Homo sapiens: one gene and its partners. The protein of the gene in region 2 interacts with the protein of the main gene of each other region in a pairwise test. Each region holds a gene or a part of one and is shown on either strand. Other genes may lie near its edges.

Evidence for each region. The genes of interacting proteins can lie anywhere in the genome.
Region 1: the proteins of VANGL2 (region 2) and PTPN4 interact in a two-hybrid assay, tested with the Homo sapiens proteins (one large-scale study listed by BioGRID).
Region 3: the proteins of VANGL2 (region 2) and LRRC7 interact in a two-hybrid assay, tested with the Homo sapiens proteins (one large-scale study listed by BioGRID).

What each region holds. Positions count from the first base shown.
Region 1 is NC_000002.12:119,958,922-119,962,421, forward strand, and holds part of PTPN4 (tyrosine-protein phosphatase non-receptor type 4), read left to right. Parts: intron 1-1,885; coding exon 1,886-2,032; intron 2,033-3,500. UniProt on the Homo sapiens protein: Phosphatase that plays a role in immunity, learning, synaptic plasticity or cell homeostasis. Regulates neuronal cell homeostasis by protecting neurons against apoptosis.
Region 2 is NC_000001.11:160,407,064-160,410,563, reverse strand, and holds part of VANGL2 (vang-like protein 2), read right to left. Parts: intron 2,761-3,500; exon of another isoform or gene 2,676-2,760; intron 2,562-2,675; exon of another isoform or gene 2,309-2,561; intron 2,109-2,308; exon of another isoform or gene 1,930-2,108; intron 1-1,929. UniProt on the Homo sapiens protein: Involved in the control of early morphogenesis and patterning of both axial midline structures and the development of neural plate. Plays a role in the regulation of planar cell polarity, particularly in the orientation of stereociliary bundles in the cochlea.
Region 3 is NC_000001.11:70,137,922-70,141,392, forward strand, and holds part of LRRC7 (leucine-rich repeat-containing protein 7), read left to right. Parts: 3' UTR 1-3,471.

The DNA of each region.
Region 1 (3,500 bases), on a different chromosome or scaffold from region 2:
GGTCAGTTTTAAACAGCAAAATCACCAGTAAAAAAACCCAAAAGGTAAAAAGTAAGGCACTACATAGAATGCAAAAAGGCCACTTGTTTACAGTATGAGAGCTAAAACAAAATGAGTTGGTTTGTTTGATCTCACCTGGAAATGTGCATGTCTTCAGATGACTCAAATTTTTCACTGCTCTAAGTATGTCTACTAGATGACCAAGAAATCCCTGCAGCTGTTTTGAGGGTTATGAATAAATTTTAGCAAGTAGTCAAATTTGCAAATAGAGAATCCTTGATGGAGGATTAGCTACTTAGGAATATATCTCTGATAAGGCCTTTTTTTTTTTGGTAGCAAAACCACAATACTATTTTAACACTTAGAAAAATAATATCAGAGTTAAATGAAAAATACGTGCAGTTTACAAAAAGAAAAGTGCAAATGAAAACTTCAAGGAATTACTATTTCACCTGAGATTGAAAGAGCAAAAGTTTGGTAATACTACATGTAGGTCCACATCCTTTATGTGAAACCTTAGGTTAAATATACTATGGGGCCAGGCGCAGTAGCGCATTCCTGTAATCCCAGCACTAAAGAGAGGCATAAGCTGGAGGATAGCTTCAGCCCAGGAGTTTGAGACCTGCCTAGGCAACATTAGGAAGACCTCATTCTCCACATAAAGGGGCAGTGAGTGGGAGGGTGTAGAAAAATATGCTTTGGGATTCCGAATTTTTGGAATTTTGAAAGGGTATTTAGTACATATACTATAATAAGTAGCATCGCTGGCAGGCTATGGGACAAGTGCTCCATAATCAATATATCTGAATAGTTAACAGCAAACTATAGATATTCTCCCTAAGTAAGACTAATAAAGAGTGCAAATAGTCTTAGGTCAGTTCAGGTCAGATTTTGCTGTCAAATGAGCACAGGTTGGGGCAAGTTTACAGAAATAAAAAACATGAGGGCCTTAAATCTGCATTAAATATTTTCTTGTATATTTATACAGTAGAGCCATTTAAAAGAATGAAATTTTATTTACTCATCAAACATCATCTTGAAGATGAAGTAAAAAAGACAAGCAGAACAACATTATATATATAGTATACTACCATTTTTAAGCAACAGTTTTACAGAAAAGTGGGAAGTTGCATATATGTTTATATGTTGTATATAGAATATCCCTGAGAAGGCTATATGACAAACAGAAAAAGATTACCTTCCTGGCTGCAAACTAGAAGCTGAAATGGGAGAAGAGACTTTCTTTATTCACTCTTTGTTATTCTTTGAATTGTCATGTGCATATATCACCTTTTTAAAAAAAATTTAATCTCAAAATGTAGTAGGATAATGACTGATGACTCAACTTTCCCAAATACTATCTTACCTCTTTCTGAAAATTATGAATTTAAAATATTCTGATACCCTCTAAAGTTACTTTATATGTAAAAATTCAAGCTAAAACCAATGGCAGAATTTTTGTTCCTCACAAATTTTACCAATAAACTATTTACAGATAAGTATTTTTTATTTCTTTACCAAGTCTCTGCCTCTGAAACAAAATTCTGTGTTAAGCTGCTTTTAAAAATCATAATCGGCCGGGTGTGGCTCACACCTGTAATCTCAGCACTTTGGGAGGCCAAAGCAGGAGGATTGCTTGAGCCCAGGAAAATATTTAAATTCTTATTTCCACTAATTAAAAGATAAATACATGTAACTGTTGAACATTGCCATGAAATTTCTTCTACAGATAAAATAAGAAATTGTTAATAAAGATTTGTTTTACTGACGGCAGTTTATTGAGGTTAGTTGTATTCACTATAACAGTTAGTGGATGATTTTCCTATTCCTGATTACTGTAAAAAGTAATGCAAAACATTTTATTTTCATGCCCTTTTCTTTTTAGATGGAAATTCCTTCTTCCAGCATTATAAATCAGTACATTGCTTGTCAAGGGCCATTACCACACACTTGTACAGATTTTTGGCAGATGACTTGGGAACAAGGCTCCTCTATGGTTGTAATGTTGACCACACAAGTTGAACGTGGCAGAGTAAGTCATAGTTGAATCTTACACATTGCTTGGACTTTTTTCAAATTATACTGCACATATGTAGTCAAAATATTCATATTTATTTAAGCCTTTGTAACCTTTAATCTTCTTTTCTTGTGGTTTCTTGTTTTAAATCATCATGTTTAAGTGCATAAAACTGTGACTAACACATAAATAAATGTGACATAAGTGTTAGCCATTACTGTCATTGTTATTTAAAGGGATTAATATACATTTGTTAAGGGTCTTGTGTCTAACGTATATACAGAACTCTACAGTAAAATAAATAATGCAATTTAAAAATGGGCAATGGATCTGAATAGACAGTTCTCCAAAGAAGATATACAAATGGCTAAGAAGCACACGAAAAGGTGCTCAACATCATTATCAGGGAGATGCAGATCAAAACCTTAATGAGACTTTATATCCTAGAGGATGGCCAAAATAAAAAGGACGTATAAAAACAAGTTCTAGGGATGATATGGAAAAAACAGAACCCTCCTATTGTGGGTTTGTAAAACCATCCAGCCATTTTGGAAAACAGTCTTGTAGTTCCTCAAAGAGTTAAACGTCGAGTTGGTATAACTTAGTACTTCCATTCCTAAATCCAAAAGAGTTGAAAAGGTCTGTCCACACAAAAATTTGTACATGAGCATTCATAACAGCATTATTTATAATGGCCAAAATGTAGAAACAACTCAAATATACAAATAAAATGTGGTATAGTCTTATGGTTGGATATTATTTGGCAATAAAAAGGAACGAAGTAGTGATACATACTACAGCATGGGTAAACCTGGAAAACACTTAGCATAGTGAAAGAGGTCAAAAAGACCACATAGTGTATGATTGCATTTATATGAAATGTCCAGGATAGGCAACTCTGTAGAGACATGAAGTAGATCAGTGGTGGTCTAGATCTGGGGTAAGGATGGGGGAACGGATGAGGAAGAATGAACAATGACTACTAATTGGTATAGGGTTTATTTTGGGTGTAATGGGAATGTTCTAAAAGGGATTGTGGTGATGGTTGCACAGTTCTGTGAATATACTGAAAACTATTGTATACATTAAACGAGTGAACGGTATGGTACATGAATTACTTGTCATTACAGCTGTTTTAAAAAATCTTAAGATTTAATGAGGATTTTTGCTGCCTCAAAATATAGCCAGATTACTTACTATTAAAAAGGGAAAAAAGTGACAAAGAAAAAATGTCGGCTGGGCGCAGTGGCTCACACCTGTAATCCCAGCACTTTGGGAGACGGAGGCAGGTGGATCACCTGAGGTCAGGAGTTCGAGACCAGCCTGACCAATATGGTGAAACCCCGTCTCTACTAAAAATACAAAATTAGCCAGGCTTGGTGGCACATGCCTGTAATCCCAGCTACTTGGGAGGCTGAGGCAGGAGAATCGCTTGAACCCAGGAGGCAGAGGTTGCAGTGAGCCAAGATCGTGCTATTGCACT
Region 2 (3,500 bases):
ACCCCCATGTGTGGCGCGTGCTGGGGGCCGATGACCAGACGCAGGCAGCTCCAGACGCCACCTCCTGCCACTGCTCTAGCCCGGGCCCACCCCGCAGCCCAGTCCCGGCTACTTTAGGCCTGGGGTGAGGTAATGAGACAGAGCATAGATGCAGACGGGGCTGGGAGAAAGAGCTGTGGAAACCAGGGTGAGTAGGCCACGGAAGAAAAGGGGGGCAGGGACAGAGCAAAACATGTACCTAAAAAGGGCACCTAGTGTTCCTCATCTCCACCGAGGACAGGGCTGGAAGCAGCTGAGAAGGGTGCTTGGGTTTGATTTTTAAAAGACTTCCAGCCAGACGGGAAGACGATGGGAAAGAGGACAAGAAGCCTCAAGTTCTCCTCAGACAGGGGCAGAGATCTCTGATAGGACCATTTTTCTCTCCGTAGTCAGGGACTAGGGAAGGGTGGTTCTGCCTGAACACAGGGAAATGGGTGTGATTACTGCTTCAGAACCTGCCTGAAGAGTCGTCTGTGGGCCCCTGCCCACTAAAGGTCTCCGATTCCTACTCAGGAGCCTGGGTCTTCCTGCATATGCCTTGCACCCCTTTCCCACTGCAGCCCGTGGGCAGGGGTATGCATGTGGGCACCCCCTAGCTGCCTGGCTCCCTAATCATCACCATCCATAGTGCCAAGGTCCAAGGATATCAATATAAGTTCCACTCAAAGTGCTGGAAGCCCACCTTCAGCCATGGAGGTGGCAAGAACTAAGCCCAGGGTCCAACCTCCCAGCCCAGGATCCCAGGAGCTAGCTCTCCGTGCTAGCTCAGAGTACAGTCAGAGTACCTCACCAAGGCCTAAGGCCAGTGCAAGGCAGAGCAGAGACTCGAGACACAGCTGTCGCACTTCAGAGCCTTGCTTGGTTTTCCTCCTTGTCACACACCTCCCCTGAGTTTCACAGATGTGCTCAACCCAGGCAGCGCTGTCAGGCCCTGGTGGGGGGCTGAAGTTGATGGGTGTGGGTTGAAAATGCAGACATCCAACACAGCTTCCACAGACGGAAGGAAGGTACCTGAACCTCTGACTATGCCCATATCATTCCCCTGACACCCCTTCCCCTTTCCCTTTCCCTTTCCCTTTTCCCTTCAGGAGGACACAGCTGGCTGAACCACCCTCTTCTCAGCAGTTCCCAGCACCAAGCTGAAAGGGGCCTTAGAGGGACAACCTCAAATTTTACAAATAAAAAAGTGGGACCCAGAGAGAGAAGGTGACTAGCCCATGGCCACTACTTCTACGGCAGCCCATTTCTGGCCTCCTCTAATTGTTGGAAAATCGTAGTAACACTGACTTTGAGGAGTGCTCCTCTTGGAGTGAGACCAGGTTTCTCCATGAGACTGCTCTGGACACTGGTTCCTTGAGTAGCCACAACTGCAAGAGGGCCACGACAGGAGAGGATTTGCTGACTCCGTCCTGCCCCCTCTTCTCACCAGGGACAAAGAGACAGAGACTAGACAGGCCTCAGCTAAGACAGCCAGAACCAAAGAGCCTCTATCCCCAAAAGGGGTGGTTCCTGCACCCATCCATCTACCACAACTAAGAACCTTGATGTTCCTTCATCCCCATCCAGCCTTGGGCTATGGGCAAGCCACCCATCCAGAGAGGCTGGGCTTTTGCTATCACCGAAAAGACTAAGGTACAGAGTGGGCAAGGACCAGCTCCAGCCCTGGACCAAAAATAGGATGAAGATTTTGCCCTGACCCTCATTCCTAAACCCTGAAAAAGGCTGTCCTTGGGTGACAGTGCTGCCCAGGAGGCCAGAGAGAACAGCTGTATCTTGGTGGGCTGAGGGGTGGGAAGGGCAGAGCAGGGAGCCCAGGAGCTGGCACCAGGTGCCCCACCCCCGCCCTGTTAACCAGGCATTCTCCCAGGACAGCCCCAGAGATGAGCTCACCATCCTCATAGCCCCAGGGTGGGGGCAGGATCCTTCTCCTCACTGGGCTGAGTGGCAGAGGAGGGGTGGGATCCTGGCCATGCTTGTGTCATCCAGGCATCTAGGCTTCCAGAGCAGCTTCTCACCAGCAGACCCCAGTGCAGGGTGCACCGCAGGGGAAGGGCCCACAGACTGGGCTCCTGGCCAGGATACCTGAGCTTGCATTCTACCTCAAAAGCAGTTGGGGAAGCCAGAGCCAAGCCCCTCTCCACCTACGTCCTGAATTTCCCTCAGTCTAAGGCTGGGGGTGAGGCCGAGGACCTCTAAATCCGCAAACACACCAAAATACCCACCCATACGCATACACACCCACACTCTGTTCCCCCTCTGAAACCTGGAATCACTCCTGCCTGCCCCACCCAGCTCCACCCACCCTGGCTAGGCAGGTTCTGTAGAGACCTGCTCCGCTGTCTCTCTGGCACCCCCACCCCCATCCCAGCTCCCAGAAGGTACCTGCCCCCCAACACAGCACACAAAAGCAGACACGTGTGCACATTCATGTCCCATAGCACCCCATTCCCTAGCCTTCCCCAGACCCATTCCTAGTCCGTCTTGAAGAGAACACTGGGGGTGGAAAGGCTGCAGGAGAAAAGGTGAGTAATGCCCCTGGCATCTGTCCCAGGTGGGGGCCGGCGGGAAGACGGGACACTAAGCTGGTGGGAAGGCAACCAGGGCTTCTGGATTCTCCATTTAATTTTTACCAACAGGCAGGCCCCACAATTTCCACCACCAGGCTTTGAGCTGCTTCCTCCCTTGGCCTAGGCAGAGAACTGGCCCGTACCTGCCCACCAGGTGAGCTGTGGAAGAACCAAGAAGGAAAGCAGGCAGCTTGAGGTGTCTTCAGGGAGAGGGTGGACAATGGGAGGTGGGTGAGTTGTGCTGACCCGTAAGTCAGTGAGTGTCCTGTACACTCCAAAAACAAATGCCCCCCTCTTCCTAGCCTGCTGCTCGAGGTAGGCCCCAACTGTCCCTGGCCCCAAAAGACCTTCAAAGCCTGCTCACCCAGCCCCTGCCCTGGGGTGCAAAGATGTGAAAAGCAGCTAGTTGGGAAGGGGAAGTTAGCCAACCTCGGGCTTGCTGTGGATGGGGAGAGTTGAGCTGTGAGGATGGAGTGTGAGGGAAGAACATATGGGGGCACTGTCAGCAAAGGCTGGATTGTAGGAAAGTGGTAGAGTGGGCCTCAGGGTGTGAGATGCAGTGTGACTGGGGATGAGGGTGGCAGGGCTGGGTATCCCCATCCTGAGAACCTCCTGTTGCCTCAGCCCAATGCCTTGGATCTGGCAACTTGGCCAGTTCTTATCTAGAAAACCAGATCCAGCTGAAAGGCCCAAGTACCAGCCGGCCTCCACCATCGCGACCACCCCCCTACCTGAGATTCTCACTCTTTGCTGAAAATTCTCAACTCTCCCATCCCTTATATCTGCCACCTCCATTCCTGAAGTAAAGCAGGTGTCAAAATGCATGTTTTTGTTCACAGTCTGTTGTTTTTTAAGTGACTGCATTCACACTTCGGGCTCAGCACCTGTTCCTAT
Region 3 (3,471 bases), about 90 Mb from region 2:
TTTCCAACAAAATCCCAGAGTTTTTGCTTGCTCTTTGAGGTTAAAATCAAAGATTTTTCACTCAGGATTAGCCTAGATGTAGAACAGCGACTGTATAATAAAGTTGAGTTCAAAAAGTGTATGAATTCAGTTATGGTCTGGAAAATTAGCTGCCATTTTGTGATGAAGTGTTTGGTTTTTCCTTGTAGAAACTTAGTGTCATTGCGCATCAACTTAGAAAATGTGAATTGATTAAAAATATGTGATGGATTGTGCAGCATGCTTACATTTGAAAATGGAGATTGTGCCTTTAAATACTTAATCAAAGGACTCCTGACCTTCAAGTACCAGTTTGGGCATATTACTGGAGATCCAGGTTGAAAGGTATTGAAAAAAAAGCTCTGTATCTTTGTATATTCAGTTGTCAACATGGAGAAGCCACCTTTTAAAAAAGATCAGTTCTGTAAAGCATAATGCCTACTACACAGACATCATTATTCTACTTAAAAGTCTTTTTTTAAAATTCCAAATACTTGTGGTAGTAGAAAGCAATAAATATTCTAAAATGAGGGATATTGGTCCTTTTGTGACTGAGCTATATGATAAACTAAGGAAAACTACAGAAGTTATGTCTATTAACTCTTTAAGGTACATGATATAGCAAATAATCATTTGTACAACCTCATAGAAAGTTGAGAGGATTAATCAAATTGTTTCAAAATTTTTAAGGAGCCAAATTTAAATTCTCAATACCCTATGAGATTTTTTAAACTATTTTAGATTCTTACCAGAAGAATGCATAGATGTAGTAAAACCATTAAATACAGTAGTATCTGGTGGCCTTTCTGTGTGGAGGAGCTCGTTTGTCCAAGGTATGATCTACCAGTGAGAAGATCAGTGCCAGGTCACAGAAAAAGCTAATCATTTTTAGTTTAATCCTGACCAGCTAGTCTTCCTCCAGGCATCAGCTACCTGATTTTAAAGAGACCATATTAGAAATGAAAAGCAGCAGTCTCTATCATATGTTAAATTCAAAGGCATAGCTGCTCGTGAAGACCCTATTATGTTTTATTTGCCTATCGGAGAAAGAGATCTGCCTACCTGCCTTTAGGAAAAAGCAATGCTTTATGTAGCTTCAATTAGTCCTGCATCAGGTTATTCTAATGCTTCCTACTGCAAAAACCAAGCCCACAAGTCTCCAATCCTAAAAGTCACTAGAATATTGATATAAGGAATTCTGTGTCAGCAGTATCTCAGTATTCAAACCTCTGTTTAGGGTCCTGCATGTACTATCAAACAGCAAGTGATAGAACATTCAGGCGTTTTATTGGATTTCAGAATTCAGATTCAGAATTAAGTACTCTTGGGATAAAGGAAATTAACGAGCTTTTGACATTTCAAGAACTCATTGAGATTGTCAAAGGCTTCAGTAATGAACTCTAACAAATAGATCCAGAAGTCATAAGTGAGAAAGAAAACAAGCATGTCTAGTGAAATCTGTCCAGTGTACGTAACACTGCACAAAGAGCATATTTTATTCAGACCATTTGGATTCAGATGTACCCTAAAGACAACTATGCTATAATGGCTTGTCTCCTACTTCCTGGCCTCTAGCCCTACCCATTGCCCAGGTGGACGTTATGTTTTTAGTTTTTCCTTTGTGGGTGAGGGAAGAAGAGGACATCAGGTGAAGTGTGCCATTACTATTTGAAAACTAGCTCTGCAGGAAGGGTTAAATCAAATCCTTTACAGGGTGACCTTCCTACATCTCCTTAGAGCAACTGCATTTCAAAATAGGCCAAAGCTGAAGTCATAGGAATGAGACATTAATTGTAGGTTTTCAGGAAAGCTTCGGAGACACGGCAGGTACAGTCTCCTTAGAGCCTTTGAAAATACAACATGTAGGTCCTTCTCAGATTATGCTGAAACTCCAAATCCTTGTTAAAGGTTTTCCTGGACTCCTACAGTCTGGTTTGATCAGTTTATTATTAAGTACTGAATGACAGAGAAGGGTACACAGGGAGGACTTGTATCACATGAAGTAAAATAATTATTTCCTTAATGAGAAACTTAATTCTAGGGTACTTACAATAGCTGCCTTATTGGGGGAAGGGAGGCATAGATTTGCAAATGGTGGGTTTTTTCGTTTTTTTGTGTGTTGGAGTAATTGAAAAGATACATCAAGCAATAATAAACTAGATGTGCAATAATCTTGTCGAGTAGTATGTGCTGGTTTTGGAAAGGTGAAAAGAAAATTGTTACATCAGGCTGCTTTTATCAAGCTAAGCATGGGCATGCCTTTCCAAAGGGTATATTTGATCCTACAGTTAATTTTAACATTGGGCTGCAAGCTTAACCTCATCAGGAGTGGAATTAGATTTTACAAAGTTCCCCTTATCCAAACTACAGCACGCTTACTACTTTCTCCTTCCATTTTCCACACCTCAGCCCCCTAGGACCAGCTACTGGTAAGTCATTTTGTCCATTTTCATTGATCTGGCCACATAAGGAACATCCTGTTTCTTTAAATCCTCAATGCTTAAATTGCCATGTAGAAATCAACTCCCTATCAATTTTCTACATTTAATCCTTGGCTTCTTGTCATATTTTCATTTTTCTGCACTGGTTCCCATGGCAACAAGTCTGTTGGCAGAGAAAGTATGACTCTGCTTTTAGCCTTCTGCACAAGACAAAATCCTTCTGGTGATCCTCAGGCAAGTATAATATAAAAAGTCAGGAATTGACTACAGTTCCCTTGGCTAATGCCTCTAATCCTTTACTCTCTTGCATGCATTTTCCACCTTATTCCCAAACCAGGCTTGAGAAAAAAAGCATTCAAGGGCCCTGCCCAGTATCTCTTTACTGATACAAGTATTCAAAGGCCCTCCTATCCAATCACAGCCACAAAGACTGAATATTTTGGTTCAGATGGCTTTCCCTTCTCCCTAAGTGTCAGTGACTTAACTGACATAAATGCATAATTAATGACAAGGACCACTGGGAGCAGCATCGAGAAGCAACTTTCAGTCATTTTTCTATAAACAACTTTCCTCAGTTCGCAACTGAGGTGTAGCCCAGGGAATAAGTATGTCCTGAATTGAGCCTTAAATCAGTGACTAATAAGGCAATGGAACACTCAAGCAGATTTTCCTCTAATGAGTAGTTAAGTGGCACAGGAGGAGAGGCCAAGGAGTCATCCCAGAGTTCTAAGCTCATAAAGAGGAAGAGATAACAAAAGATGTAGATAAGAGGACATTGTTAACTGGTGGCTGCAAATGAGCAAGGGAGCTTCATTCAGTTGGGACAATTCAGGGTTCAGGTACGAAAAGGGTATGAAGCCTACTGAAAAATAAGGAAATGGAGCATGGAGAAAGAAAGGGTTTTTAAGAGTTAAGTCAGTAGAAAGGGAGCCTGCAAATGAGACAATAGCTTCATGCAGACTTTGGCCCAACTCTGTCTACAAATACTTTTGCAAATAATGTTTCTCTTAAT